Linked DNA regions of Homo sapiens. The protein of the gene in region 1 purifies or fractionates together with the protein of each later gene. This does not show direct contact. Each region holds a gene or a part of one and is shown in the gene's direction. Other genes may lie near its edges. The genes, in order: PRKD2, VPS33B, CDK10, TYR, ZNF552, MCF2L and GATD3.

What was found.
Region 2: the proteins of PRKD2 (region 1) and VPS33B purify together in Homo sapiens (affinity purification with mass spectrometry; one large-scale study listed by BioGRID and IntAct). This does not show direct contact.
Region 3: the proteins of PRKD2 (region 1) and CDK10 purify together in Homo sapiens (affinity purification with mass spectrometry; one large-scale study listed by BioGRID and IntAct). This does not show direct contact.
Region 4: the proteins of PRKD2 (region 1) and TYR purify together in Homo sapiens (affinity purification with mass spectrometry, with the first as the bait; one large-scale study listed by BioGRID). This does not show direct contact.
Region 5: the proteins of PRKD2 (region 1) and ZNF552 purify together in Homo sapiens (affinity purification with mass spectrometry, with the first as the bait; one large-scale study listed by BioGRID). This does not show direct contact.
Region 6: the proteins of PRKD2 (region 1) and MCF2L purify together in Homo sapiens (affinity purification with mass spectrometry, with the first as the bait; one large-scale study listed by BioGRID). This does not show direct contact.
Region 7: the proteins of PRKD2 (region 1) and GATD3 purify together in Homo sapiens (affinity purification with mass spectrometry, with the first as the bait; one large-scale study listed by BioGRID). This does not show direct contact.

Annotation. Positions count from the first base shown.
Region 1 is NC_000019.10:46,692,983-46,697,165, reverse strand, and holds part of PRKD2 (serine/threonine-protein kinase D2), read left to right. Parts: coding exon 1-9; intron 10-3,032; coding exon 3,033-3,291; intron 3,292-4,183.
Region 2 is NC_000015.10:90,998,274-91,002,456, reverse strand, and holds the end of VPS33B (vacuolar protein sorting-associated protein 33B), read left to right. Parts: intron 1-274; coding exon 275-407; intron 408-994; coding exon 995-1,068; intron 1,069-1,865; coding exon 1,866-1,967; intron 1,968-2,481; coding exon 2,482-2,557; intron 2,558-2,663; coding exon 2,664-2,780; intron 2,781-3,402; coding exon 3,403-3,482; 3' UTR 3,483-3,784; downstream 3,785-4,183. UniProt on the Homo sapiens protein: May play a role in vesicle-mediated protein trafficking to lysosomal compartments and in membrane docking/fusion reactions of late endosomes/lysosomes.
Region 3 is NC_000016.10:89,693,033-89,697,215, forward strand, and holds the end of CDK10 (cyclin-dependent kinase 10), read left to right. Parts: intron 1-241; coding exon 242-294; intron 295-365; coding exon 366-435; intron 436-1,140; coding exon 1,141-1,200; intron 1,201-1,395; coding exon of another isoform or gene 1,396-1,513; exon of another isoform or gene 1,514-1,530; intron 1,531-1,536; coding exon of another isoform or gene 1,537-1,632; coding exon 1,633-1,756; intron 1,757-1,898; coding exon 1,899-2,038; intron 2,039-2,260; coding exon 2,261-2,313; intron 2,314-2,562; coding exon 2,563-2,660; 3' UTR 2,661-2,696; coding exon of another isoform or gene 2,697-2,743; 3' UTR 2,744-3,322; downstream 3,323-4,183. UniProt on the Homo sapiens protein: Cyclin-dependent kinase that phosphorylates the transcription factor ETS2 (in vitro) and positively controls its proteasomal degradation (in cells).
Region 4 is NC_000011.10:89,180,582-89,184,764, forward strand, and holds part of TYR (tyrosinase precursor), read left to right. Parts: intron 1-4,183. UniProt on the Homo sapiens protein: This is a copper-containing oxidase that functions in the formation of pigments such as melanins and other polyphenolic compounds. Catalyzes the initial and rate limiting step in the cascade of reactions leading to melanin production from tyrosine.
Region 5 is NC_000019.10:57,806,142-57,809,490, reverse strand, and holds the end of ZNF552 (zinc finger protein 552), read left to right. Parts: intron 1-387; coding exon 388-1,451; 3' UTR 1,452-2,409; downstream 2,410-3,349. UniProt on the Homo sapiens protein: May be involved in transcriptional regulation.
Region 6 is NC_000013.11:113,084,078-113,088,260, forward strand, and holds part of MCF2L (guanine nucleotide exchange factor DBS), read left to right. Parts: intron 1-814; coding exon 815-907; intron 908-1,008; coding exon 1,009-1,101; intron 1,102-2,046; coding exon 2,047-2,172; intron 2,173-3,157; coding exon 3,158-3,379; intron 3,380-3,629; coding exon 3,630-3,722; intron 3,723-4,183. UniProt on the Homo sapiens protein: Guanine nucleotide exchange factor that catalyzes guanine nucleotide exchange on RHOA and CDC42, and thereby contributes to the regulation of RHOA and CDC42 signaling pathways. Seems to lack activity with RAC1.
Region 7 is NC_000021.9:44,139,718-44,143,900, forward strand, and holds part of GATD3 (glutamine amidotransferase-like class 1 domain-containing protein 3, mitochondrial isoform 1 precursor), read left to right. Parts: intron 1-532; coding exon 533-625; intron 626-1,224; coding exon of another isoform or gene 1,225-1,357; exon of another isoform or gene 1,358-1,446; coding exon of another isoform or gene 1,447-1,681; exon of another isoform or gene 1,682-1,698; intron 1,699-3,487; coding exon 3,488-3,644; intron 3,645-4,183.

The DNA of each region.
Region 1 (4,183 bases):
TACTATAAGGTAAGCCTCCGGGCTTTCAGCTCCCTCGGACTTCCCGCTGTGCCCACAAACTTTCCCACACCTCCTCCTACCCCCAGTTACTCCAGACAGATCCTGCAAATCACACCCTCTGCCCACCCCCAGCCTCCCTGCTTCCAGCTCATCAGCAAGTGCTGCCCATCCGATTCTGGCCCCACCACTTTCCAGCCAGGGGGACTCCGGGCAGGTTCCCTTACTTCTCAGTGCCTCACGCTTCTCACCTGCAAAATGCCTCAAATGCTAATACTCACCTCAGGGCTGGTGCGAGAATTCAAAGAGCCAATCCACTAAACCAATTGGCTTAAGGCGTGGTATATATTAAGCTCCCAGTAATTCTAAGGCTGTTCTCACTATTCCTTTATTTTTTGTTATTTATTTATTTTTTGAGACAGAGTCTCACTCTGTCGCCCAGCTGGAGTGCAGTGGCGCGATCTCGGCTCACTGCAACCTCCGCTTCCCGGGTTCAAGCGATTCTCCTGCCTCAGCCTCCCACCCTAGGACTACAGGTGAATGCCACCACACCCAGCTAATTTTTGTATTTTTAGTAGAGACGGGGTTTCACCATGTTGGACAGGATGGTCTTGATCTCTTGACCTCATGATCTGCCCCCCTCGGCCTCCCAAAGTGCTGGGATTACAGGCATGAGCCACCGCACCCGGCCTCACTATTTCTTTATAATTAATGTATTGCATTGTGTGCGTATTCGTCACCACCTCCCATGCCCACACTGTGTCCCAGCCACTGTCTTCCACCTGGATGGTTTCAGCCTTCTCCTTGCAGGGTCCTTGCTTCTGACCTCACAACCTCTGTCATTTCCCCCACAGCCAGGGGAGTCTTCATTAAAACCGTCAAACCCCCCAGTGGCTCCCATTGTCTTAGAGTAATAAAACCTGGACTCCAGCTGTTACCTGCCCTGGAGCGTCTTCCTTGAACTTTCCATGGCTGGTTCCTTATCATCTTCCCATTTTGCTCAGACCACACCATCTAAAATGCTGTCCTTGGCCAGGCGTGGTGGCTCACGCCTGTAATCCCAGCGCTTTCAGAGGCCGAGGTGGGCGGATCACTTGAGATCATGAGTTCGAAACCAGCCTGGCCAATATGGTGAAACCTTGTCTGTACTAAAAATACAAAAATTAGCTGGGCATGGTGGCGGGTGCCTATAACCCCAGCTACTTGGGAGGCTGAGGCAGGAGAATTGCTTGAACCTGGGAGGTGGAGGTTGCAGTGAGCTGAGATCGCGTCACTGCACTCCTGCCTGGGCAACAGAGCAAGACTCCATCTCAAAAAAATAAAATAAAATAAAATATAATGCTGTCCTCACCATGCCCCCCCGACGTGTCCATGTCATCACCTGGTTTTATGGGCTGCCTAAGTCATTCATTCTTTCCTCTCTCCTACCTCCCTCCTTCCTCTTTTGACACGTTTCCCACCCCATAGTCCCTGTGCCTTCTGTCCCGCCTGGGTCCCCTCAGCCTCCTTCCTGGTTCTCTGTCTCCATCTCATTCTATTCCATCTGCCCTCCGCACACAAGCGGATGATGCTCAAAAGCCTTCAGTGGCTTCCTAGGGCCCTTGGACAAAGCCCAGGCTCTTCCTTGTGGCCCGCAAAGCCCTGTGTGGCCTCATTTCCTCCATTTATTATCAAACGTTTATTTTTGAGACGGAGTCTCGCTCTGTCACCCAGGCTGGAGTGCAGTGGCGCGATCTTGGCTCACTGCAACCTCCGCCTCCGGGGTTCAAGTGATTCTTCTGCCTCAGCCTCCCAAGTAGCTAGGATTATAGGTGTGCCACCACGCCTGGCTAATTTTTGTATTTTTAGTAGAGATGGGCTTTCACCATGTTGGTCAGGCGGGTCTCGAACTCCTGACTTTGTGATCCGCCTGCCTTGGCCTCCCAAAGTGTTGGGATTACAGGCATGAGCCACCATGCCCAGCCCATTTATTTATTTTGAGACAGGCTCTTGCCCTGTCTCCCAGGTGCAGTGGCATGATCATGGCTCACTGTAACCTCTGCCTCCCTGGCTCAAATGATTCTCCCACCTCCACAGTAGCTGGGATTACAGGTGCGCACCACCACACCTGGCTAGTTTTTTTATTTTTTGTAGAGATGGGGGTCTCATTGTGTTGCTCTGGCTGGTCTCAAACTCCTGGGCTCCAGCGATCTGCCTGCCTTGGCCTCCCAAAGTGCTGGGATTACAGGCTTGTGGCACCATGCCTAATTTTTAAATTTTTTGTAGAGCTGGGGTCTCACTGTGTTGCCCAGGCTGGTCTTGAACTCCTGGGCCATCTGCCCACCTCGGCCTCCCAAAGTGCTGGGAGTACAGGCACGAGCCACCACATCCGGCCATCAAATGTTTATCAAGCTTTTACTATGTCCAGGCACCGCCCATGTGATGGGGATACAGCTTGGCTTTTGAGCATAGCCTTTCCTTAGGGCCTTTGCACATGCTGTTCCCCTACTCCTTGCCAACTGGCTGCTTCTTACCTTTCTGGTCTCTGCTTCAATATCACTTCTGCCAGTAATTAGTATTATTATTATTATTTTTGAGACGGAATCTCACTCTGTCGCCCAGGCTGGAGTGCAGTGGTGCGATCTTGGCTCATTACAACCACCGCCTCCCAGGTGCAAGCGATTTTCCTGCCTCAGCCTCCCGATTAGCTGGGATTACAGGCGCACACCACCACGCCTGGCTAATTTTTGTATTTTCAGTAGAGACGGGATTTTGCCATGTTGGCCAGGCTGGTCTCGAACTCCTGACCTCAAGTGAGCTGCCCACCTCGGCCTTCCAAAGTGTTGGGATTACAGGCATGAGCCACCGCACCTGGCCTCTGCCAGTAATTATAAAAGAACAGTGAGAACAGGCTTAGAATTACTGGGAACTTGTCTGACCACTGTGCAAACCAGGCCCATCCCTATCAACATGGATCCCGTGTATCCTTCTGGGTAAGCACTAGAATTCCAAGGTCTGCCTGGCATCCTCACCTGTGCTGGTTCCACGTCCTGCAGGAAATTCCGCTGTCAGAAATCCTCACGGTGGAGTCCGCCCAGAACTTCAGCCTTGTGCCGCCGGGCACCAACCCACACTGCTTTGAGATCGTCACTGCCAATGCCACCTACTTCGTGGGCGAGATGCCTGGCGGGACTCCGGGTGGGCCAAGTGGGCAGGGGGCTGAGGCCGCCCGGGGCTGGGAGACAGCCATCCGCCAGGCCCTGATGCCCGTCATCCTTCAGGACGCACCCAGCGCCCCAGGCCACGCGCCCCACAGTAAGTCCTCCCACCTCGGGTCCTTGAGAGAATAGATCTAGATGGGTGGGGCACGGTTCTGGGGAATGGAAGGGCCAAAGAGGAAAGTGGGCAATGGTGGGGTTGAGAACGCAGCTTCTGGACTCAGCAGGCCTGGGTTCAAACTCTGTTAATCACTCCTGTTAATCCCAGCGCTTTGGGAAGCCAAGGAGGGAGGATCACTTGAGGCCAGGAGTTCAAGACCAGCCTGGGCAACATAATGAGATTCCATCTCTACAAAAAATAAAAACAATTAGCCAGGTGTGGTGGTGCACACCTGTAGTTCCAGGTACTTGGAAGGCTGAGGCAGGAGAATTGCTTGAGCCTGGGAGTAGTGAGTCATGATTGCATCACTGCACTCCAGTCTGGGTGACAGAGCAAGACTCTGTCTCCAAAACAGAAAAAACAACAACAACAAAAATCCACAACAAATCTCTGTTAAGCTCCTGGCCTGATATGTGGCCCTGGGCATATCACTTCCCCTCCATGAGCCTTGTCCCAGGTGCTGATAAGTCCTCATGCACTTACTGAGTGCCTCCTCTGTGCGGGACAGTGCTGGGGACCCAGTGGTGGCCAGGACAGCCCAAGACCTGCCCTCATGGGGCTCAGAGTCCAGTAGGGCAGAATACCCATCTTCAGAGAGTGACAGTCCAGGGTGGGCAGGGTTGGGACAAGGAAGCTAGGGAGCTAGAGGAGCCCAGAGGGGTACCTGACCCAATCTGGGTATATAGGGGGGCTTCCTGGAGGAGGTGACATCTGAACTGAGATCTGGAGGCCGAGGCAGGGTGAGATGTGGGAAAGAAAATGGGAGGTCATTTTAGGCAGAGGCAAAAAATGTTGAGAGAGTACCAGGTTCCCACCCTCTGGAGCTTAT
Region 2 (4,183 bases), on another chromosome or scaffold:
GTTTCACCATGTTGGCCAGGCTGGTCTCAAACTCCTGACCTCAAGTGATCTGCCTGCCCTGGCCTCCCAAACCCAAAGTGCTGGGATTACAGGCATGAGCCACCGCTCCCAGCCCTGTTTGGTTATTTCTGATGTGAAAATTTATCTCAACAAAGTGTGAGCTCCTTCACACTGCAGCAGAGGCTTCATAGTCCTTCTGCTCAACTCTGTAGTACCTGACAGTACTAGATGCTCTTTGGACACTCAGTAAATAGTCTAATTGCATCTTCTTCAGAGCTATGGCCCTGAGCACCTGCTAACCTTCTCCAATCTGCGAAGAGCTGGGCTCCTAACGGAGCAGGCCCCCGGGGACACCCTCACAGCCGTGGAGAGTAAAGTGAGCAAGCTGGTGACCGACAAGGCTGCAGGTAAGCAGGGAGCACAAGTGACCCCTGCTCCAGCTGTTGTCCTGACTTCTCTCAACACGCAGCATGCTGGGAGGGACAGAATGAATTGGAGAAGGTGGACTGATTCCTTCCTATTAATGTCATTACTATTATTACTACTACTTCTGCTAGTAAGAGCAGTTTCCACATAGTAAACACTTACCATGTGCTGAGCCCTTTAGTTTCTCATTTAATCTCACAAAGACTGTGAGATAAATTTTCTCATCCTCATTTTATGATGAAACTGAGGCTTAGAGAATTAAGTGATTTGTCCAAGGTCCCTTAGTTAGTAAGTTAGGTCGGTTTAACTCCCAAAGCACATACCAATAAACTCGGGTTACCCTGTGGATTGCATTTAGTAGAGAGCTGGTACCCCGTAGGAGGGGGAAGACTGTGGGTGGGGAGAAGGGTGGGGAGTATATCTTGATTAGTTCCAGGGAATTATAGTTGAACAGCTTCCGAGAGTTTTTGGATGTGATTGGTGCTGTCGTGTCCTGAATGGTGTTATCTGTGGCAGTGTCATGAATCCATAGACCTTAGGTGAAACCTGACACAGATTTCTTCCCCAGGAAAGATTACTGATGCCTTCAGTTCTCTGGCCAAGAGGAGCAATTTTCGTGCCATCAGCAAAAAGCTGAATTTGGTATGTGGAACAGGGATGGTTAGGGGAGACAGTGGGTTCATTCCATTGTGGAGTACTTTTCTTTTTTTTTTTTTTTTTTGAGATGGAATCTTGCTCTGTTGCCCAGGCTGGAGTGCAGTGGCACAATCTCAGCTCACTGCAACCTCTGCCTCCCAGGTTCAAGTGATTCTCCTGCCTCAGCCTCCCAAGGGATTACAGGCATGTGCCACCACGCCCAGCTAATTTTTGTATTTTTAGTAGAGACAAGGTTTCCCCATGTTGGCCAGGCTGGTCTTGAACTTCTGACCTCAGGTGATCCGCCCACCTCGGCCTCCCAAAGTGCTGGGATTACAGGCATGAGCCACTGCGCCCAGCCCATTGTGGAGTACTTTGAATCCACAAAAACCTTTTTGTCATTTCATGTGTATAAAGATTCTTTTGTTTGGTAGTCTTATAGCATGGTAGATTCATTCATTTAATCAACATGTAACAAGCACCTGCCAATGCCAGAGAATATTCTAAGTGCTGCTTCAGTGACAACCATATCCTGTGTCACTTAAGGGTAGGGAAAGGAGAAGCCATCCCTCCAGCCCCTTTACATTATTCAATAATGGCGCATGGGAACTCATTCCAGAGAACTGGCAGTTACTGAACAAAAACTGCCATCTTCCGTTATGGATTCTCTTTTCAGGGCTATTGCTGGTTCTCCCTTTAGTTGAAATAAGAATTGTTCCTTGGGCCATGCCACTTTATCTGACCCTTTAAAGGGTTAGGGAGCTGAGCTGTCACTTGCCTAATGAAGTCCCTTTGTCTTACAGATCCCACGTGTGGACGGCGAGTATGATCTGAAAGTGCCCCGAGACATGGCTTACGTCTTCGGTGGTGCTTATGTGCCCCTGAGCTGCCGAATCATTGAGCAGGTGAGAGCATGTAATTCTTGCTCCCATTCATATTTCATTCTCTCTGCTTTCTCTTGGTCCCTGGCGTGTCTCAATGTTTTTTTTTTTTTATTTGAGATGGAGTCTTGCTCTGTCACCCAGGCTGGAGTGCGGTGGCACGATCTTGGCTCACTGCAACCTCCACCTCCCAGATTCAAGTGATTCTCCTGCCTCAGCTTCCGAAGTAGCTGGGACTACAGGCATGTGCCACTGCACCCAGCTAATTTTTGTATTTTTAGTAGAGATGGGGTTTCATATAGACAGGGCCAACTATATGTTGACCAGGCTGGTCTCGAACTCCTGACCTCAGGTGATCCCCCCGCCTCAAACTCCTAAAGTGTTGGAATTACAGGCGTGAGCCACCACACCTGGCCCTGTCTCAACTTTTTGCTACTTGAGTAATGAGCAAGAAATGTGACAGTCTGGCTGCTGTGCCCTTCCTTTCCTAAGCCTGATACTGTCTGTAGCCTTAAAAACAGTGCTTACACCTTCCCAGGTGCTAGAGCGGCGAAGCTGGCAGGGCCTTGATGAGGTGGTACGGCTGCTCAACTGCAGTGACTTTGCATTCACAGGTATGTGGCATTAACAGTGGGGTAGGCTGGCAGTGAGAGGTGGGCTGGATGCACCACTCAGGACTAGCATGTCAGGGAAGGGCTGAATCTGGTCTGATCCTCACAGATATGACTAAGGAAGACAAGGCTTCCAGTGAGTCCCTGCGCCTCATCTTGGTGGTGTTCTTGGGTGGTTGTACATTCTCTGAGATCTCAGCCCTCCGGTTCCTGGGCAGAGAGAAAGGTAAGAGAGAGCAGAAAGGTGAGAATTGGCCTGCATTGTATCTGGGTAACAAAGTGTCAGCTGGGCACGGTGGTTCATACCTGTAATCTCAGCACTTTGGGAGGCGGAGGCGGGCAGATCACCTGAGGTCAGGAGTTAGAGCCTAGCCTGACCAACATGGTGAAACCCCATCTCTACGAAAAATACAAAAATTAGCCAGGCATGGTGGCCGGTGCCTGTAATGCTAACTACTCGGGAGGCTGAGGCAGGAGAATTGCTTGAACCCGGGAGGTGGAGGTTGCAGTGAGCTGAGATTGCACCATTGCACTCCAGCCTGGGCAACAATAGCAAAACTCCATCTCAAGAGAAAAAAAAAAAACACGCAAAGTGTCCTGCACAGGAATATTTTTCTCCTGGCCTCAGAATACAACTTGCCATAGCCTTAACTCTGGGCTGCCACAGCAGGGAGCCCAGTTATACCAGTCATAGAAAGCAGTGGTGCCCAAGAGCATGGCACTCACGTCTCTGTCTATAAACTGGTGCTGTGATCCCGTGGGGACTGTGGAACTGGAGAGGCTCTATGGGTTGCCGTTGGGGCCTAAGATCTGTGCTGTCTCTTCTGCTGCTGCATTTGACTCCTTAGGCTACAGGTTCATTTTCCTGACGACAGCAGTCACAAACAGCGCTCGCCTTATGGAGGCCATGAGTGAGGTGAAAGCCTGATGTTTTTCCCGGCCAGTGTTGACATCTTCCCTGAACACATTCCTCAGTGAGATGCAGGCATCTGGCACCCAGCTGCTATAACCAAGTGTCCACCAACTACCTGCTAAGAGCCGGGAGCATGGAACGTGTTGGGATTTAGAGAACATTATCTGAGAAAAGAGTTCACTTCCTGCTCCCAGGATATTTCTCTTTTCTGTTTATGAAGTACAACCCATGCTGCTAAGATGCGAGCAGGAAGAGGCATCCTTTGCTAAATCCTGTTTGAATGTCATTGTAAATAAAGCCTCTGCTCTCAGATGTAATACGTTGGTCGTTCTGGACACGCACTTCCATCTTTATTAGTGAAAGCCCATTGGAGCTTGCTACAGGGGCTTCCTGTGCTTCTTGGCCTGGACTTTGTAGTGGCTCCAGGCCTGGTCTGGTTCTTCCCTGTAAAAATCACTCTACCACTCTGTACCTGAGTTTCCTCTACCATAAAATGAGGGAGATGGCTGAGGTGACCAGCAAGCACGTTTCCAGTTCTAAAATGTTGTGATTCATTACATTTTTGAGAAAATGACTTTGTTGTTTTAATTTAAGGAGGCACTTCAATTTTAAGCGTTTGTTTCTTATTGCAGAATGAAAGATTGTGTGCCATTAGAGCCATTTCAGGCATCAGCAAACAGTGCTCCTATAAATGTGCCAGCACCCTCCTCATTACT
Region 3 (4,183 bases), on another chromosome or scaffold:
GAGGCCGAGGCAGGAGAATGGCGTGAACCCGGGAGGCGGAGCTTGCAGTGAGCCGGGATTGCTCCACTGCACTCCAGCCTGGGCGACAGAGTGAGACTCTGTCTCAAAAAAAAAAAAAAAAGATACTAAAAAGCCCAAAGCTGAGGAAACGTGCAGGAAGTCTACGGGCATTGGTGCCGTGGGGGAGCTCTCAGCCCCTGTGGCCCTCTGGGAGCCACCTGCCACTGTTTTTCCATCACAGGGACCTGAAGGTTTCCAACTTGCTCATGACCGACAAGGGTTGTGTGAAGACAGGTGGGTGCAACTTGGGCCAGGCCCTGTCCCTAGATGGCACTTGGTGACACACACTCCCCTCTCTGCTGCAGCGGATTTCGGCCTGGCCCGGGCCTATGGTGTCCCAGTAAAGCCAATGACCCCCAAGGTGGTCACTCTCTGGTAAGTCCTTCTGAAGCATGGTGGCCCCTGGGGACCAGGCCTGTCTGGTGGAGGTCTCCTTGGGGATGTCAGGCCGAAGCTGCAACTGGCCTTGGGAATGTTAAGCTACAGGGTCTGTGCACACTCAGAAACGTTGGGTCTAGGACAGCCTCCAGGACACAGCAGGGCTGTGCCACAAAATGGTGAGAGACGGGCTCAGTGGCGTCAAGGGCCTGCCTAGATCAGACACACCTCGCCTTGAGAGCTGGAAACACCGTGGCCGTGAAACCATCTCTGGAGGGAAGGCTGCTTCACGGACTGAAGGACAGGCAGCTTGCATGCTTTCCCTGGTTCTTCCTCCTGGATACTTTTAACCAAACAGGGTCATGCTTAGCCAGGGCTGAATATCAGAGTTGGTCAGAATCAGGTCAGGACCCCAGTGTCGTGTACTCCCCATCTGAGAACGGGTTGGTAGTGGCTGGTGTGGCTGTGTGCCGAGGGTCCGTGGTCCCTGCGACTCTCAGGACACCGCTGCACGTGACAGCTCTCGCCCCCGGCAACCATTGCTGTGTGTGCCACCTGGATCTGCAGGGCCTGGGGCAGAGGGTGGTCCGAGTTGGGACAGGTTTCCAGGCCACCACAGGCTCTCGGGGAGGCTGTGTCCTGTGGAGGCCTGGGCTGGGGGAGAGGAGCCGGCTGTATTGAGGTGGGTGCTTCTGTGTGTAGGTACCGAGCCCCTGAACTGCTGTTGGGAACCACCACGCAGACCACCAGCATCGACATGTGGTGAGGAGATACGGTTACCGCTCCTGGGGCCTCAGGAAGGGCTGGGACAGGAGCCGGGTCACCTGGTTCCTGAGCTCAGCCTCAGGGGAGGGGCAGGAGTGCAGTGGGGTCTTTGCCAGCCTCCCACTCCCAGGGAGGTGGGCCTGAGCCTGGAAACCCAGGAGGAGGTGTGAGAACTTAGCTTGCTGTTCTCAGGCTGGGAGCACAGAGGTCTGGAGGAGGCACGCCTGCCCCTGCACTTGTCACCCCGGGAGGCCTGCGGGGCCCAGGAGGGGAGCCAGTGGTCCCTGCCTGTCCTTCACAGTGTCCCTGACCCAGCGTGCCTCACACTGGCAGGGTCAGCAAAGGTCTGGCTGCAGTCAGGTCCTCTGTTCCTCGCGCTGGCGGGGTCAGCAGACGTCTGGCCGCAGTGAGGTCCACTGTTCTCTGCAGGGCTGTGGGCTGCATACTGGCCGAGCTGCTGGCGCACAGGCCTCTTCTCCCCGGCACTTCCGAGATCCACCAGATCGACTTGATCGTGCAGCTGCTGGGCACGCCCAGTGAGAACATCTGGCCGGTGGGCGTCCTGGGCAGACCCGCAGCCCCCGCCCGTGCCCACGCCCTCTGCGCCCGCAGCCCCCGCCCGTGCCCACGCCCTCTGCGCCCGCAGCCCCCGCCCGTGCCCACGCCCTCTGCGCCTCAGCTCCTGCCTCCCATAGGGCTTTTCCAAGCTGCCACTGGTCGGCCAGTACAGCCTCCGGAAGCAGCCCTACAACAACCTGAAGCACAAGTTCCCATGGCTGTCGGAGGCCGGGCTGCGCCTGCTGCACTTCCTGTTCATGTACGACCCTAAGAAAAGGTGCTGATCTCTGCACGGGGGGCAGGGACCCTCACCACCCACACTGTCCAGACCGTTTCCCAGAGCCCAGCCTCACTGCGGTGGAGAGGCCCCTCCCCAGGCACAGCCGCTCGGAGTGGCCACCTGGCTTCCTTTGAGCATTTGAATCACAGGCTGCTCAGCTGGGTGGGAGGTGAGGAAGCCGCACTCACAAGTCGCACTAACGCAGGCTGCCTCCTCCAGGGCGACGGCCGGGGACTGCCTGGAGAGCTCCTATTTCAAGGAGAAGCCCCTACGTGAGTGTGCAGGGTTCCTGACTCGCTCTGTGGGGTATGGCTGGGAGCCCGTTTTGCCCGGGGTGGGTGGTGGAGAAGTGGCCTGCTGCCCTCACTGACGGCACACCCTTTCTGGGGTAAGAGGACAGGGGCATGTGGAGGCACAGACAGCCCAGGGCCAGGTCCAGAGGCAGAGCTGGACTCAGACCTGGGCCTGCTCCTCCTATCTGGGGCCCTGCCCCGCCCAGCACTGAACCCTTCTCCCTGCAGCCTGTGAGCCGGAGCTCATGCCGACCTTTCCCCACCACCGCAACAAGCGGGCCGCCCCAGCCACCTCCGAGGGCCAGAGCAAGCGCTGTAAACCCTGACGGTGGGCCTGGCACACGCCTGTATTCCCACACCAGGTCTTCCGATCAGTGGTGTCTGTGAAGGGTGCCGCGAGCCAGGCTGACCAGGCGCCCGGGATCCAGCTCATCCCCTTGGCTGGGAACATCCTCCACTGACTTCCTCCCACTGTCTGCCCTGAACCCACTGCTGCCCCCAGAAAAAGGCCGGGTGACACCGGGGGGCTCCCAGCCCGTGCACCCTGGAAGGGCAGGTCTGGCGGCTCCATCCGTGGCTGCAGGGGTCTCATGTGGTCCTCCTCGCTATGTTGGAAATGTGCAACCACTGCTTCTTGGGAGGAGTGGTGGGTGCAGTCCCCCCGCTGTCTTTGAGTTGTGGTGGACGCTGGCCTGGGATGAGAGGGCCCAGAAGACCTTCGTATCCCCTCTCAGTCGCCCGGGGCTGTCCCGTGCATGGGTTGGCTGTGGGGACCCCAGGTGGGCCTGGCAGGACTCCAGATGAGGACAAGAGGGACAAGGTATGGGGTGGGAGCCACAATTGAGGATACCCCGAGACTACCAGGAGAGCCCTGGGCTGGAGGCTGAGCTGCATCCCTGCTCCCCACATGGAGGACCCAACAGGAGGCCGTGGCTCTGATGCTGAGCGAAGCTATAGGCTCTTGTTGGATAAAAGCTTTTTTAACAGACATGGTTTCACCAGCGTTTAATGTGCTCTGATGTTGACCGTCCCTCTGAGTGTTCTGGGGAGGAGGGGGTGGGGCGGAGGGTCAGGAAAGCAGGCTCAGCTTCCAGGGTCAGGGAGTTGTGGGCCCAGAGGGGCTGTCACAGTGGATGCACCCTGCCCTCTCCCTCGCCAGACCCGAGGGTAGGGCAGAGGCACCTCCTCGCCAGCCTGTGGGCTGCACCCACAGGGAATGGAGGGGAGGGGCACCATTACCACTGGACCCACCAAGACCCCGCCGCCTGGGCGGGCTGTCCACAGGCCCTTCCGCCCAGCAGCAGTGACGCTCAGGGCCTTCCCAGCTGTCAGCCACTGCCCGTTCCTGCGCCTCTCGTGCACCTCCACATCTGGTTTGAGGTCAGGTCATTTCCTGTCTGTGGGCCCAGCTGCTGTGACACCCAAGGGGAGGGCCGGCGTCCCCGAAGCCAGGTCAGCCGTGCACCCGGCAGAGCCCCGCAGATTGGCTCCAGCAGAGCTTGGGGTGGGGGGAGCTCGGTGTCACCAACAGGCCCTTGAGGACACTCGTGTGGAGAATCCCTGGGACACGTGGAGGACCCCCAAGTCCTGAGCCCCGTACTCCGTACTGCAGGGAGCAGGCCAGGAGCCACGGGCCTTGGGGCACAGGGTCCTTCTCAGGGACAGGTTCAGGCACTGGCTGGAACAGGCTGGACCCCTCTACCCAGCACATGTGGGCATGCGTCTGGGTTCCGAGGGTGGGGAAATGTGGAAAGGCTCCTGCTGGCCGGCTTAGGCCTGCTGCCCTTGGAGCCTTCCATATACAGAGAGTCCCACCTCCAGCAAGGGTTGGCCTGGACTCTCCAACCCC
Region 4 (4,183 bases), on another chromosome or scaffold:
AGCCCTGAACTGAAATTGATACAATTATCAACTTCAACCTTGTTCTATGATTAAATTGCTGTGTAGAAACAGGTTTCAAAAATAAAATTAGAAAACAGAGTGGAAGGAAGATGACTGAAGAGAAACAAGCAAACCACAGTTTAAGAAAGGTGAAATGAGCATTTGCTGCTCACCTACTATGTTTTAGTAGTGTCAAGGGCTTATTAGTGGCAAAGGTGACAGTCAAACCCCACTCACATTGGCTGTTTCCATTCCTTCACACAGCCTCTCTGGTTACAAAGTCCTTAAAATAGTTAAGATCGATTGCTTACATTGCTTTAATTCAGAGTTCTCAATGTCAAAATCACCTAGGAAGCTTCCAAAAAACCATTTAAAAAGTAAAAATAAAAAACTGTTGCAAGGTTTTTATGCACCTAATTTCTTGCCAGAAATTCAGATTCAGGTGGTCTCCTGTGAGGTTGTAAAGTTCAAGAGTCTTTTTTTTTGGCAGTGGTGCAATCTCCATACGCTGCAACTTCCGCCTCCCAGGTTCAAGTGATTCTTCTGCCTCAGTCTCCCTAGTAGCTGGGACTACAGGGGCCTGCCACCACTCCCAGCTAATTTTTTGTACTTTTAGTAGAGATGGGGTTTCACCCTGTTGGCCAGGCTGCTCTTGAACTCTTGACCTCAAGTGATCTGTCCGCCTCAGACTCCCAAAGTGCTGGGATTGCAGGCCTGAGCCATCAAGCTGGGCCTTCAAGTGTTTGCATTTTTAAACCCTCATTTTGTGATTCTAATGTGCAGCCAGCACTGAGAATCATTGAGTTAATGGAGATTGTTTTGGTATCTTTTTACTTTCACTTTACAAAAACGCATGTTCTGTAATAAACACACCATTAATTTGAATGCCTTTGTCCAAATTGAATGCTTAAATTAAGAACTAGACTATTTGTGTGAGATGAGATCAAATAGTTTCTAGATTGAGTTAAGACCTTCCAAATTAGCTAGGCTGATGCACCTTTCACATAAAGCCTTCTTTTTTTATTGGTTTCAGATATCATTTTACTTGACCCCAAAATTGAGATTTGAGAGATTTGATAGCATTTATTAACTCTGAGCTGAGAGATCTTCAATTTTATTTAGGGTAACCTGTGCATTTTATTAAAAAACTATAGAAAAGCCTAAAATGGTAGGATGATTGTCCAAAGTCACACATCTGAGGACTAAAACCAAGCGGCTCTGACTGCAGTGCTTTTTAAGTCAACAATGTTATTTCTTGTTTATAAGGATCCATTTAGGTTCAGAAGGGGTCAAGTAACCCGCTAATTTCTGGGTGTATAATTTGACATTTGATCACGTTGACTCCCTTAAAATTGTCCTGCCCCAGACAACATAGGCAGACACAGTGATGTAGTCCTTTTAATTTATATCATAATGAAAATATTCTGAGACTTTTACTGATCCACCTCTGTTACTCAGGTAGAGTTGACCCTCTCCCCGTCTTTGTGCTATCATTGTACTTTATACAGATTTGTATCATAGCACTTGTAACTTTTCATTACATGTAGTGGTTTTCCAGCCTGTCTGTATCTGCCAGCCTGTCAGTCGCTCCAAGGTGGTGATCATTTCTAAATATTTTTGTATCCACAGAGCACAGGACTATAATATACACATGGAACAGGCTTTATAAATACATGCTGAATTTAACATCAAAGAAACGTTAGCTCCAATGCTAACATACATAAAATATTAAACTCTGCATGGGTAGATTTCTAGGACCATTCACTGCAGTTTTTTTATAGCACTGGATTCCCAATGCCAAGGATACAACAATGTCAACAATAGCCACTTACTCAAATTTGGGTATAATATATCTTGTGTCGTTCTCTCTGGTAGTTCCATATGTATGTCTGCGTGTGTGCATGCAAAGAAAGACAATACAAGAGAGAAGATGAAGCAAGGTGCAACATAGCTGAGTGTGATTTAAATGAAGTTAATATTTATTGGTCAGAGTTTTCTGTTAAATATGTTAAAATCAGGTAATTAATTTATTTGGAAATATTGTGTTCCTAATTCATGTCTGTTGTTTGCTCATTTATTTAACTCCCAAAGCTTTAAATTAGGGGCCATGTTTATCATCAATTAAAATAGTTCATTATATTTGGAGGTGGAGGGTTGCTTAATAACATTTAAGTACAAACTACCCATGCTCAATATAATTAGATCTAATGTTATGCAACCAACAGATCAGCTAGCTACAAAAATAAAAGGGGTATCAGGAATAGGTGTCATCATGAACAGAAACAAAGAGGAAAAAACATTTCCTAGCTGATACACATGAGTGAATTGTGACCAGGGAATTCACTCATCAGGTGAAAAGCACATCACATGGAAGCAAAGAGAAGAAAAAAAGTCACATTTCAGCAGAGAGTCATGGGTTTTAGGTAACCATGACGACAGCTCAGTGAAATAACAGCTTCTCTTTTTTCTTTATGAAAAAGATTTTGTGGAATGTCATACGGTTTACATTTTTTCCCCCAGATAAACCTCTAATGCTATAACAAAATCTTTGCTCCCAAAAGCTTTTAATATCTGGCAGTTTATTGCTATTTCTTTAAATTTAAGAGAACAGTATTTAGGTTCACCTTCCTCATTAATATATCTATTTCTTCTATCTCCCCTTTTTTCTTTGACTTGGAACACTTGATCGTCCCCCCAGCATATGTTATAAATCACTTGCGTTGAAATAGAAAAAAAACAGAGTCATCATCAGAACATCCAGGCTCAAATTCTACCCCTGCCATTTAGTAGACGACATTGGACCAGTTATTTAAAATCTTTGACCTTTGTTTTTTCCAAAGAGAAAAAAAATGAGGTAGAATTACCATCTATACATGTTTTGTGTGTGTGCTAATAGGAGGATTAAATGGAATGGGAAACAGAATAATGTAGTGGAAAGAGTATAGTCTTTTCAGTCACATCAGCATGAATTTGAGTGAACTTTCATACTTACTTAGCTACAAGACCCTAAGTTACTTAATTATTCTGAGACGATTTTTGTCCCTAAAATTAGAATAATATAGGTTAAAGCATTACTGTGAAGGGATTCAATAAGATGTGTTTATATGGCTTGTTTAGGATCTGACCTATTGTTTGAGTTTCATGTGTGGAAATAATATATTTTTAAATGATACATCAAAGTTAGATATAATAATGAATATTCAAACAGTGTTATACACCCAAAGTTAAAAACAATTTGGTGACCTGCCCAATGGTCTTGTTTTCAAAAATAATTATGATAGTTGTCATTATTAAACACTTTACACTTGGCACTATGCTAAGTGCTTTATACATGTTAGATTATTTGATCATTGATAGAAACGTATAATTCCCATTTACAGATGAAAAAACTTAATACCCAGAGAGCTTAAGTAACTTGCCCAAGGCCATGTAACTAATAGGGTCAGTATTGGAAACCAGGTCTTTCTGACTAGAATCTTCATGATCATAAGCACAATGCTAATATAATTTCTCCTAGCCTGCCTCCTCTCCTGTATGCAGTGTAAAGACTAAGGTTTGGAGTTTTTCAAATTATTTCTGGAACCAGGGTAGATTTTCTCCTCGTTAGTAATACCTCCAGTCATCCGAACACTTAGTCACTTGGCAGTTGGCATTTCAGCAAAAATAGTTTCATTCAAGCCTCTCTAATTTAACTGAGTTGGCTGTAGGAGTCTTTAAGGCAGCAGGATCTTTTGAAAATATCCTGAGATTACTCAAAGAGGAATAAAAATGATTTAGTCTACATACTTGTAGCGTCCAGTTAACCCAAATTATAAAAGCATCCAACATATTACATTCAATGTAAAAGTTAGGTTAGTTTTATTCAACCATTCCTAAGCCATTAACACGTCATAATTAATGTAGTGGGTATTGCTTCAGAATAAGGAAACTTGTGTTTCAGTGCTTTGGTTTTGACTCTAAATATCATATGGCCCTAAGACAAGTCACTCAACAGTTCTAGTTCTCAATTATATATGGATAAAAGGATTTAGGAACGTTATGAGGTATAAGGCAAACTAGAAACTGGCATTTGTTGAAACAGAAATTATTTGTTGAATAGTTTCTTTTCGTATATTATGTCATAGTACAGTTTAAAAAAATTGAGATTTAGCAAGTCTAAAAAACATGTTCATTGCCAGTAAGA
Region 5 (3,349 bases), about 11 Mb from region 1:
CACTTTGTTAAACTGTCCTCAAGCAGAAGCTGCTGTGTTGTGCTTGTGTTTTCCTTGGCCTGGACAAATCCCTCTCTACAGCACTCGCATGTCATGAGGACATAAATTCTGCAGATGAGTGGTTTGCAGATGCAGGGATTGTAGACCCTGCCTCTACTCCCTGTGTTACATACATGGTTGTGTCCTTTATGTTATGAGGCCTCCTACATTCTGTGACCATTATAGTCCAGTAATAATACATAGCACCATCTTCCACCTGAAGCCAACATCCTGTTCCTCCAAGTACTTCCTTGGAGTAATTCCTCAGTTTTTCAGATACACTTGTGGGTGGTCTGTGCCTTCCCACCAGAGTTAACATGCACTTCACCAGCATTTTCTTGCTTTCAGGTTGTTGGTGTGGAGTGGAAGATGAGGCGGCACCTTCTAAGCAGAGTATTTATATACAAAGAGAGACTCAGGTCAGGACTCCTATGGCAGGTGTGTCTCCCAAGAAGGCCCACCCCTGTGAGATGTGTGGCCCGATCTTGGGAGACATTTTGCATGTGGCAGATCATCAGGGAACACATCACAAGCAGAAACTGCACAGGTGTGAGGCCTGGGGGAATAAATTGTATGACAGTGGAAACTTTCATCAGCACCAGAATGAGCACATTGGAGAGAAACCCTACAGAGGGAGTGTTGAGGAGGCGTTGTTTGCGAAGAGGTGTAAGTTGCATGTGTCAGGGGAGTCATCTGTCTTCAGTGAGAGTGGGAAAGACTTTTTGCTCAGGTCAGGATTACTCCAGCAAGAGGCCACTCACACTGGGAAGTCAAACAGCAAAACTGAGTGTGTGTCTCTGTTTCATGGGGGAAAAAGCCATTACAGCTGTGGAGGATGCATGAAACATTTTAGCACCAAAGATATACTCAGTCAGCACGAGAGACTGCTCCCTACAGAAGAACCTTCTGTGTGGTGTGAATGTGGGAAATCCTCTAGCAAATATGACAGCTTCAGTAATCATCAAGGAGTTCACACTAGAGAAAAACCTTATACGTGTGGGATATGTGGGAAATTATTTAACAGTAAGTCCCACCTCCTTGTACACCAGAGAATTCACACTGGAGAGAAGCCATATGAGTGTGAGGTTTGTCAGAAATTTTTTAGGCACAAGTACCACCTCATTGCACACCAGAGAGTTCACACTGGAGAAAGGCCATATGAATGCAGTGATTGTGGGAAGTCATTTACCCACAGCTCTACATTCCGTGTTCATAAGAGAGTTCACACTGGTCAGAAGCCTTATGAGTGCAGTGAATGTGGGAAATCTTTTGCCGAAAGCTCCAGTCTCACTAAACACAGGAGAGTTCACACTGGAGAAAAGCCTTACGGGTGCAGTGAATGTGAAAAAAAATTTAGGCAAATCTCTTCACTTCGTCATCATCAGAGAGTTCACAAAAGAAAGGGCTTATGAGTGCAGTGAGTCCAGTCTCATTAAATATTGGAGAATACACACCTGAGTAAGATCCTGTGATTGCAGCAAATGTGGAAAATGTTTACCCAAAGGTCTGCTCTCCTTGGATATTGGAGAGTTCACACTAGAGAAGAGTCCTTACAAGTAAAATAAATTTGGGCAGTTTTGTAGCCACACCTCTGTATTCCTTCAGGATTATAGTTAACACTGAATGAAGGCCTTACTAGTGTGACAAATACAGGATATTTATCCAGAAGTCTGGCTGCATAACTCACAGGAGAGCTGTCATGTGGGAGGATTGCTACATGGGAGGATTTGCTTGAGCCTGGGAGGCAGAGGTTGCAGTGAGCCGAGATTGCAACACTGCAGTCCAGTCTGGACCACAGAGTGAGACCCTGTTTCAAAAATAAAATATATAAATGACATCCAATAAAGTATGCATATTTGAGCTGTAGGATAAGTCTTGAATTTTCTTTTTCTTTTTTTTGAGACAGCCTCGCTCTGTCACCCAGGCTGGAGTACAGTGGCATAATCTCGGCTCACTGCAAGCCCTGCCTCCTGGGTTCATGCCATTCTCCTGCCTCAGCCTCCCTAATAGCTGGGACTACAGGCAACCACCACCACTCCTACCTTTTTTGTATTTTTAGTAGAGATGGGGTTTCACCCTGTTAGCCAGGAAGTTCTCAATCTCCTGACCTCGTGATCTGCCCGCCTTGGCCTCTCAAAGTGTTGGGATTGCAGGCGTGAGCCACTGCTCCTGGCTTGAATTTTCTTATAATCCCATGAAACCATCATCAGAGTCACAATAATGAATTTATCTAATCTATCACCTTTGTATTCACCTGGAGCCTTTATAAAGTTTTTCTCTATGCAGACAACCATTGATTTACTCTGCTGTATAATACTTTCCATTTTCTAGAATTTTCTGACTGATGTAATAAAGTGTTTCCTCTTATAATCCCTGGGTGCTCTCCTGCATCATGCTTATTTTGATATCAATGTAGACATGAGTTAATTTGTTGTATATTGCTGAGAAGTATAGTCTGCCATGAAATGTCATTATATATTCATTCATCCGTTTATGGATATTTGAGTTGCTGCTTGTGTTTTTTTGTGTTTTTTTTTTTGAGGTGGAGTCTCACTCTGTCCCCCAGGCTGGAGTGCAGTGGGGCAATCTCAGGTCACTGCAAGCTCTGCCTTCCGGGTTCACGCCATTGTCCTGCCTCAGCCAGTCCTGTGGACTACAGGCGCCCGCAAACACGCCTGGCTAATTTTTTGTATTTTTAGTAGAGACAGGGTTTCACTGTGTTAGCCAGGATCGTCTCGATCTCCTGACCTTGTGATCCGCCCATCTCGGCCTCCCATAGTGCTAGCATTACAGGCATGAGCCATCGCGTGCGGCTGCTTTTTTTTTTTTTTTAAAGACTGTCGACCAGGTTGGAGTGCAGTGGCGTGATTTTGGCTCATTGCAACCTCTACCTCCCAGGTTCAAGCGATTCTCCCACCTGAGCCTCCCACATAGCTGGGATTACATGCATGAGCCACCATGCTGGCTGTTTTTTGATTTTTAGAAGAGATGGGGTTTTGCCGTGTTACCAGGTTCATCTCAGACTCCTGGCCTCAAATGATCTGCCTGCCTTGGACTCCCAAAGTGCTGGGATTACAGGCCTGAGTCGTGAGCCACTGCGCCTGTAATTGATTCTGAGGCCAGGCGTGGTGGCTCACGCCTGTAATCCCAGCACTTTGGGAGGCCAAGGTGGGTGGATCACTTGAGGTCAGGAGTTTGAGACCAGCCTGGCCAACATAGTGAAACGCCATCTCTACTAAAAATACAAAAATTAGCCAGGCGTGGTGGCACATGCCTGTAATCCCAGCTACTCAGGAGGCTGAGGCAGGAG
Region 6 (4,183 bases), on another chromosome or scaffold:
TTTTGACGTGTATTTTGTCACAACTTCTTAAAAGTACTGAATAATGACTTCAGATTCTACTGCAAGTTCCTATTCTAACCAACTGAAATCACAAAATACGATGTTTTCAATTTGGCTGAGATACCATGATGCTCCTGTACCCCTAGAACCTCCTGAACCCCCAGAACCTCCTGAACCCCAGAAAACCTCCTGAACCCCAGAAAACGTCCTGAACCCCCAGAACCTCCTGTACCCCAGGACCTCCTGTACCCCAGAACCTCCTGAACCCCAGAACCTTCTGTACCCCCAGAACCTCCTTTGCCCCCAGAACTTCCTGTCCCTTAGAAACTTCTGAGCCCTGTGCCTTAAAACCTTCTGTGCCCCTAGAACCATCTGTGCCCTAGAGGCACCCAGGAGCAATTGCACTTCACAATGGGGCTAGGGTCTGTTTTTTGCTAAATAACAGGTAATTTGTAAAACTGCCAGAGAAAATGCTAGAAGTTCTATTATATAAACAAATCAACAAACCACACCATAAATGGCCTTCTAAGAATGGCTGCGGTGGAACCCCGTCTCCACTCCACGCCTGTGCTCTGGGAAGTCAGGGGCTCTGGGACAGGGAGCCCCATTAATGGAGGGCAGGCCCCCCAGCGGAGCCTGGGAGCCAGTGCCGGCCCTCGGAAGCTATGGGGCCAGCAGCAATGCCTCGCAGGGCCGGGAAGACGCTGCGTGATGCGGTGCCCGTCCCTCACCGCGTAATGCGGTGCCCGTCCCTCACCGCGTGATGCGCTGCCCATCCCTCACTGCGTGATGCGGTGCCTGTCCCTCGGTGCAGATGGAAGATTTCCAGATCTATGAGAAGTACTGTCAGAACAAGCCCCGCTCTGAGAGCCTGTGGAGACAGTGCTCCGACTGCCCGTTTTTCCAGGTTTGTCCCCGGACCTTCCTTTAGAACGTTACTCCCTTTCCTAGCCGACTCCTGAGGAATAATGAAAATTGTGCAAACCAAAGGCTCTGGGTTGGTTCCAGGAATGCCAGAGAAAGCTGGACCACAAGCTGAGCCTGGACTCCTACCTGCTGAAGCCAGTGCAGAGGATCACCAAGTACCAGCTGCTGCTCAAGGTGGGCTCCGCGGTGACCGTGGCCCGGCCTCCCCAGCACCTGCTGGCCAGGTGTCTGTGCCGCCCTGGGGCCCCGTCCCCATCGCGCCCTGCCCCTCCCAGGCCAAGGGCACCTCTTCCGAGCCTGTGCTGAGGCTGGGATGCCTTTCGAGGTCCTACTGTGCGCCACTGTTAGGGGTCTGAGGACGCAGGTGAGCAGACGAGTCCCCGTCCCCATGGGTTGGCACACAGCCCAGCCCACATGGGATTCTGTGTGATGTGCTGACCCGTCCCTCCAGGGTGGAGCCGTGCCCGGATTATCTGGCACACAGCAGGGACGTGGGGCGGCCTAGACTGGGGATTCCAGCTATGAGTTTGCCATGTGGGTCCCTCTAACCTTCAGGCAGGAAACTGCAACTCCATGCCTTTGGCCAGGGTTAGGGTGGCGAGAGGAAACTCCCCAGGGAGCAGGTGCGAGGGGTTTGCACCTGGCATCAGGGTGGCAGGAGGGAGCTCCCCGGGGAGCAGGTGCGAGGGGTTTGCACCTGGCATCAGGGTGGCAGGAGGGAGCTCCCCGGGGAGCAGGTGCGAGGGGTTTGCACCTGGCATCAGGGTGGCAGGAGGGAGCTCCCCGGGGAGCAGGTGCGAGGGGTTTGCACCTGGCATCCGGGTGGCAGGAGGGAGCTCCCCGGGGAGCAGGTGCGAGGGGTTTGCACCTGGCATCCGGGTGGCAGGAGGGAGCTCCCCGGGGAGCAGGTGCCAAGGGTCTGCACCTGGCAGGGGTGCTGCCCCATCTGCAGCACCACTCAGTCTGTCCCAGCTGCAGGAGGGCAGGCAGGGCAGCTCCCCACAGACCAGGGGAGGGTGAGCAGCATCCCTACCTCGTGCCAAGCTCCTGAGGGGTCTGTTCCAGGGGAGCCAGGGCTCTCCGTGTCCCGACGCGGTTGCCTCACCCCATGCCCCTCAGGAAATGCTGAAATACAGCAGGAACTGCGAGGGGGCTGAGGACCTGCAGGAGGCGCTGAGCTCCATCCTGGGCATCCTGAAGGCCGTGAACGACTCCATGCACCTCATCGCTATCACCGGCTATGACGTAAGGCGCCCAGATGCCCGGTCTTCCCCGCCGCCTCCGTGGAATACACCAGCCCAGCAACTTGGCGGCCTCCCTGCACACGCCCCTCGCTTTGGTGTGAATGTGCAGGTTCTGGGCAGGAGGTCTGGGGTGGTCCCTAGATAAGCCCACTCCCAGGCCCCACAGCCGGGTCCACAGACCCCACAGCCGGGTCCACAGACCCCACTGGGCTCTCTGGGACGTGGAGAAAATCAGGAAGCGTCCCTTGCTTGGAGGGCACGCATCTCCAGCAGGAACGCAGCTCAGACCTCCTCACTCCTTGTCTTCTCCTGGGGAGGAGGCGTGGCTCGGAGCAGACGTGACTTCTGTTTTCTGGGCTGCGATTTGCAGGCTGGTGACTTAGAGCAAGTGGCCCCAGAAGGCAGATGTCACTTTCCCCGTAGAGCCCCACATCAGGTCACAGCTTATTCATCTTTTGTCCGTCTTTATGTCCACCCAGCACTCATTCTCAGGTGTTTTTTTTTTAACTAATAGAGTTGATTTATTGCAGCAATTTTTGGTTTGTGAGATAATTGAGTATAAATCAGAGGCCCTGAGGCTTCCCCTAGTGTTGACATTTAGCATGGGTGCCACACCTGCCACACATGGTGAACTAGCGCTGATGCTGATTAGTGACTGAGGGCCGTTCCCCTTGGAGCTCACTCTGGGTGCTGTGCATTCTGCGGTTTGGACAGGCGTGTAACATCCTACACCCAGCGCTAGAGCATCACACAGAGCAGCTTCACTGTCCTAGAAGCCCATGTGCCCCGCCAGTCCATCCCTCCTCCCCCAGCCCCTGGCACCTGCTGACCTGTCAGTCTCCACGAGCTTGCCTTTCCTGGGACGCCCTGCAGCTGGAATCCCACCGTGGGTGGGCTTTGCAGAGTGGCTGCTTTCACTCAGCGATGCGCGTCCATGGCCCCAGGCCCATCCCGTCCTGAACACAGCCCTGCTGTCGCACATTTAGGGGAATCTCGGCGACCTGGGCAAGCTGCTGATGCAGGGCTCGTTCAGCGTCTGGACCGACCACAAGAGGGGCCACACCAAGGTGAAGGAGCTGGCCAGGTTCAAGCCCATGCAGCGGCACCTGTTCCTGCACGAGAAGGCAGTGCTCTTCTGCAAGAAGAGGGAGGAGAATGGGGAGGGGTATGAGAAAGCTCCCTCCTACAGCTACAAGCAGTCCTTAAACGTAAGTGAGGCCGGGTCTGCAGCAGCACGCTCCTGGCCACAGACCCCGACGGGGGAAGTCTGTAACTCGGTCTGAGGTGGCCACGCTGACACCCAGCTCTCAGCCTTAGGTGTAGGGGTGGGGTATTCTGCCATTCTTAGCCCTCACCCCCAAAGTATTTCCATCATTTCGTGCCTGCACCAACACCTTTTAAAAACAAGGCAGTGGGTTCACTGTGCACGCGAACCCCATCTCCACTCTCTGCTCGCAGATGGCTGCCGTTGGCATTACGGAGAACGTGAAGGGAGATGCTAAGAAGTTCGAGATCTGGTACAACGCGCGCGAGGAGGTCTACATCGTCCAGGTGGGCCACCCACCCTACCCCTGGCCTCTTACACATTGCCACGAATGGTTTCTCATGGGAACCAGTGCAAGGATCTGCCATGAAGTTGCATCGAGCCCAGGAGCAGCCGCTGTACACTTCAGGATGCTGCCCTGGGCTGTCTTCACCCTGAGCTGGACCCAGAATGAAATGTGGGGAAAAGTACACATCAGACGGGGTGCTGCGAGGAAACGGGCTCTCCCTCCCCAGGGGAGCTCATGTGTCCCTGGACGGTGCAAGTGTGCATCTGGCACGCAGGGCCGATTCTCACGGTGGGGAGGGTGCCGTGCCCTGGGTGCCAGGCACAGTTCTTCAGTCAGTCCCGTGCATGGGGCACAGAGGGTCCCGCAATGCGGGGCCACCCACAGTGCTTTCCTCCTCTCCCCTCACACGCAGCCACCTGACCTTTGACTCCTAAGATTATCTTTGGATGTTCCGAGAGT
Region 7 (4,183 bases), on another chromosome or scaffold:
GCTGGCGTGGCTCACAGTGCTCAGGGAAACATGACGTCAGCATTCTCCCCCGGGGAGTGGGGGACCCTCTCAGGAGAGGGTCCTGAGACCCACAGTCAGAAAGGCGGGGAACATTAGAGTCCTGCTTTGGGGCAGGTAAAGGGCAGGCGGGAAGGTCAGAGGCTGCCCGAGGCCCGACACAGCCAACGTCGTAACAGAAAGCTAACAAGCAGCACGGGAGTTAGGAGCCGGAAACCAGCGTCTGAGTCTCAGCACCGCAGCCCGGGTTCTGCCAGCTGCTCCGGAAGGTTCCAGGGCGTGGGCCCTCTCGCCCTGGTGGCCTCCTGCTGCACCACTTCCTGATCCTCCTGCTTCCTATGCTTATTTCTGTTTAAAAAACAGGAAAATATGTTCACATCAAACGCGCATATGTGCAGCCATGCCCATGTCCCTTGCTGCAGCTGACTGAGGGTCTGGAGCTGTGCCTAGGAAGCCCCCCAGGAATAGACCCTGGTTGTGAGGCTGTCTGAGGAGGCCTTTTGTCTCCCGGTAGGAGCACGTTTGCCGTGGACGGGAAAGATTGCAAGGTGAATAAAGAAGTGGAGCGTGTCCTGAAGGAGTTCCACCAGGCCGGGAAGCCCATCGGGTGTGTACAGCCGTGCAGGCCTCGGGGAGGGAGGGAGGAGGGTGCGTGGGCCCGCGGCCTCTGTTCTCAGCCAGGAGCTGCCGCTGATCCTGAAAACTCACAGCTGCTTTTCTTGTTTTAACTGAGGGGATTTCACACGATGTCACTGGTGACTTAACAGGAAGGAGAGGCACAGTGCACTTCCCTAGAGGAGGCCTGGAATTCTCTTGGCTCCCAGAGGTGTCCCTAGGCAGTCCCTCAGGACCCCTATCCTTTACCAGACCCCTTCTCCCAAGCCCCTTAGCCACAGTACCCCCAACCCCGCTGACTTCTGGCCAGTCACTGCAGCACGTGCTCCATCCCTGACGCCATCCACTCCCAGCGGCCTCCCTCCTGGGGAGCCACAGCCAACCACGCCCCTTTGTCCCTGCTCAGACAAAGCCTGGGTCCTGAGGTTGGCGGCACGAGTAGGGCGCCCACTCCTTCATCCACGTAAGCGCCTTGGCTTACGTGGCGGGTCGCAGCCCCGCAGGGAGTGTGTGCTCTTCAGCGTCTGCTGCCGGGAAGTCACTCTCAGATGTGTGAGGGTGACCCAGCAAGGCCGGGTTCCGCCTCGGCAGGTGTGATGCTTCCACGAGCCTCCCGGCACCTGCTCCTTGGTGGTCCTGGAACGCGGCGCTGTGCTGTCCAGGTCTCAGCTGCGTCTGGTGCTGGCAGGGCGAGAGCCGCACTTGCGTGGGTGAACATCAGTGAGGCGCACTCGCGATGGCCGCTCACTACCGAGTTCTGTCAGCCGAACAAGGATGAGGATCTATCGGAATCCTCTGTCTCCCCATCCACAGTCACTCACTTAAGGACCTGCCTGGTCACTGTCCAGGGAGGCCCCTAAAGTGGAGCCTCAGGAAGAGGTGCAGGCTCAGAGCTCCTGAAGGAGGTCCCTGCTGCAGCCGTGTCACAGCCGGGGTGAAGGTTTCGCCCATGGTCTCCACCTCGGGATCCCGTCCTTGTCAGAGAAGTGTTCCTTGGATGAGCGCCCAGAGGGAGGAGCCCATGGCCCTTTCTTCTGTGACTGATTAAAAATCTCGATGAAACAAGACAGCCCCTGGCAGGTGAACCACTGCCTCTGAGCATGCCTCCCCTGAAAACAGTGTGGGGCGCAAGCCCATCTCCTCCCCAATCCAGCCATGAGGCTCCCCTGGAAACAGCACAGGGCGCAAGCCTGTCTCCTCCCCGGTCCAGCCATGAGGCTCCCCTGAAAACTGCAGGGCACAAGCCCGTCTGCTCCCCGGTCCAGCCATGGGGCTTCCGTGCACGGTGACCCACAGGCTTTTTTCCTGAGGAAACCTAAATCCTTTCCCACTGGCCCCACCCACCCCTCAGCCTGGTGTCAGAGGCCTGCGTGGCCAGCCAGGGGCTGTTAGGCGGCCCAGCCGCTCACTGCTGGGACCCCTTCCTTGAATGCAGTAGTCGAGGTGGGCGCTGGGCTGTGCCAGGAGCCACTGTGGCATCTGTAGCTGGCAGTTGATGGCTGGGCGGCTGCACGCAGCGTCGGGAGCTGCTGAGAACCTGCTTCCTGGACTTTCTGCCTGCGCAGAGGGCGGCAGGGGGGTTTCATCTCATAGGCAGCCAGAAGTTGCTTCAGGACATGCAGTTTTGGGGGCGGGTTTGTTTTGAGAGTATCGCTCTGTTGCCCAGGCTGGAGTGATCTTGGCTCACTGCAACCTCCGCCTCCCGGGGTCAAGCAATTCTCCTGCCTCAGCCTCCCAAGTAGCTGGGATTACAGGTGTCTGCCACCAGGCCGAACTTTTGTAATTTTAATAGAGACAAGTTTTCGCCATGTTAGTCAGGCTGGTCTCGAACTCCCGACCTCAGGTGTTCTGCCTGCCTCAGCTGCCCAAAGTGCTGGGATTACAGGCATGAGCCACTGCACCTGGCTGTGAAATGTGTTTTTAACAGTGTTTCGTTACAGCTCACGGTAGCAGTTTCCACCTGGGCCTGTCGGGAGTGGGTAGGACTGTAGACAGCGGGAGGAGGGATGAAGGGTGCGGGGTGTTGAGGGCAGGGTGGGGCCTGACAGCTGTGGGCTACACCACAGGTTGCCAGGGGATGGGGCTGCTGTTAATGAGGCCGTACTCCTTCCACTGTTGCCCCTGGGTGGCCATGAGGCGCTGGACGACACAGGTCACTGAAGGCCCTGCTGTGGGCACAGTGCCTGGCACACAGGGGCCTCTGTTGACTTGGCAGGGAGGGGTTCCTGATGAAGCAGAAGCAGGTCCCAGGGGTGGGTGTGGCAGGACCCTCAGTTTCAGGGCTGCTGCGGCCTGTGCGTCAGGGTCAGGGGCGTGCGTCCACCAGCCTGCACTTGTTGAGAGTTGTGCTGCAGGTCGGAGGCTGGCGAGGCTGCTCCTGGCCCGTTGTGCCTCCTGTAGAAGGGGGGCTGGTGTGAATGAGAAGTGCAGCTGTGTTATCTATTGCTGGGTCACAGACCACCCCACAACTCAGGGCTGGGGCAGCCGCACATCATTACCCTCTCTGTGAGTGGACTTTGGCAGCCCGGGACTCTCGCCAGTCTGGGGTGTCCTGGGGCTTGGGGCTTAGCCCATGGCTGTTGGGGGTTCCCCTCAGGGGTCCTTGGCCTGGTGCTTGAGTGCCTGCAGGGCGTGCTTGGCGGGGAGTGGGGCTGAGGACACCTCACTCTCAGCCTTGAGTCACCTGGTGCCACCTCCATCACATCCCATGGGCCACAGCCTTCTGGCAGCGCAGGCTCACAGGGGGCAGGGTCGGCAGGGCTCCCGTGGCAGGGCAGCCTGGGGTCATGGCGAGGGTAATTTCTGTTCTGCAGGCCATGCAGCCTGCCTGACCCGTGTTCTTTTCGCCTTTCAGCTTGTGCTGCATTGCACCTGTCCTCGCGGCCAAGGTGCTCAGAGGCGTCGAGGTGACTGTGGGCCACGAGCAGGAGGAAGGTGGCAAGTGGCCTTATGCCGGGACCGCAGAGGCCATCAAGGCCCTGGGTGCCAAGCACTGCGTGAAGGAAGTGGTCATATCCTTCCTGGTAGCCAGGCCCGGCCCGCTGTCGTGCTTGTCCCTGAGACGTGCATAGGGACGCCCCTCCCTCCGGGCTGTCTTGGTGGGTGGCCTCTTCACCGGGAGCTGCACCTGCTGCTCTCCCTGTGGGGCCTCCCCCAGTGGGCACCGCAGCCATGTGTCTAAGGGCAGAGAGCAGATGGCTGTGACAGCCCAGCTGGTGTGAGGTGGGTCACAGACACGTCAGAAGCGCAGCTCTGGTGCGTGGTTGGCAGATCTGGCAGATCCAGGTCCCTTGCCTGACTGTTTAGTCTGCTCAGCAACACCCAGGCAGCCACACTCCGGGCCCAGCGGGGGGAGGGTGAGGAAAGAGTGTGTGCGAGGTGTGGAGGGAGAGCAGCCGGGCGTGCAGGAGGCGGGGGCTTCCTGAGATGCTGGGGGAAAGCGGCCGGGTGTGCAGGAGAAGGGGCTTCCTGGCTTCATTTGGGCGGAAGTTCTCAGGCCAGTTTGGGTGGCCAGGTGATTCAGCCAGCCTTGCGGCCCCCAGCCCCTCCT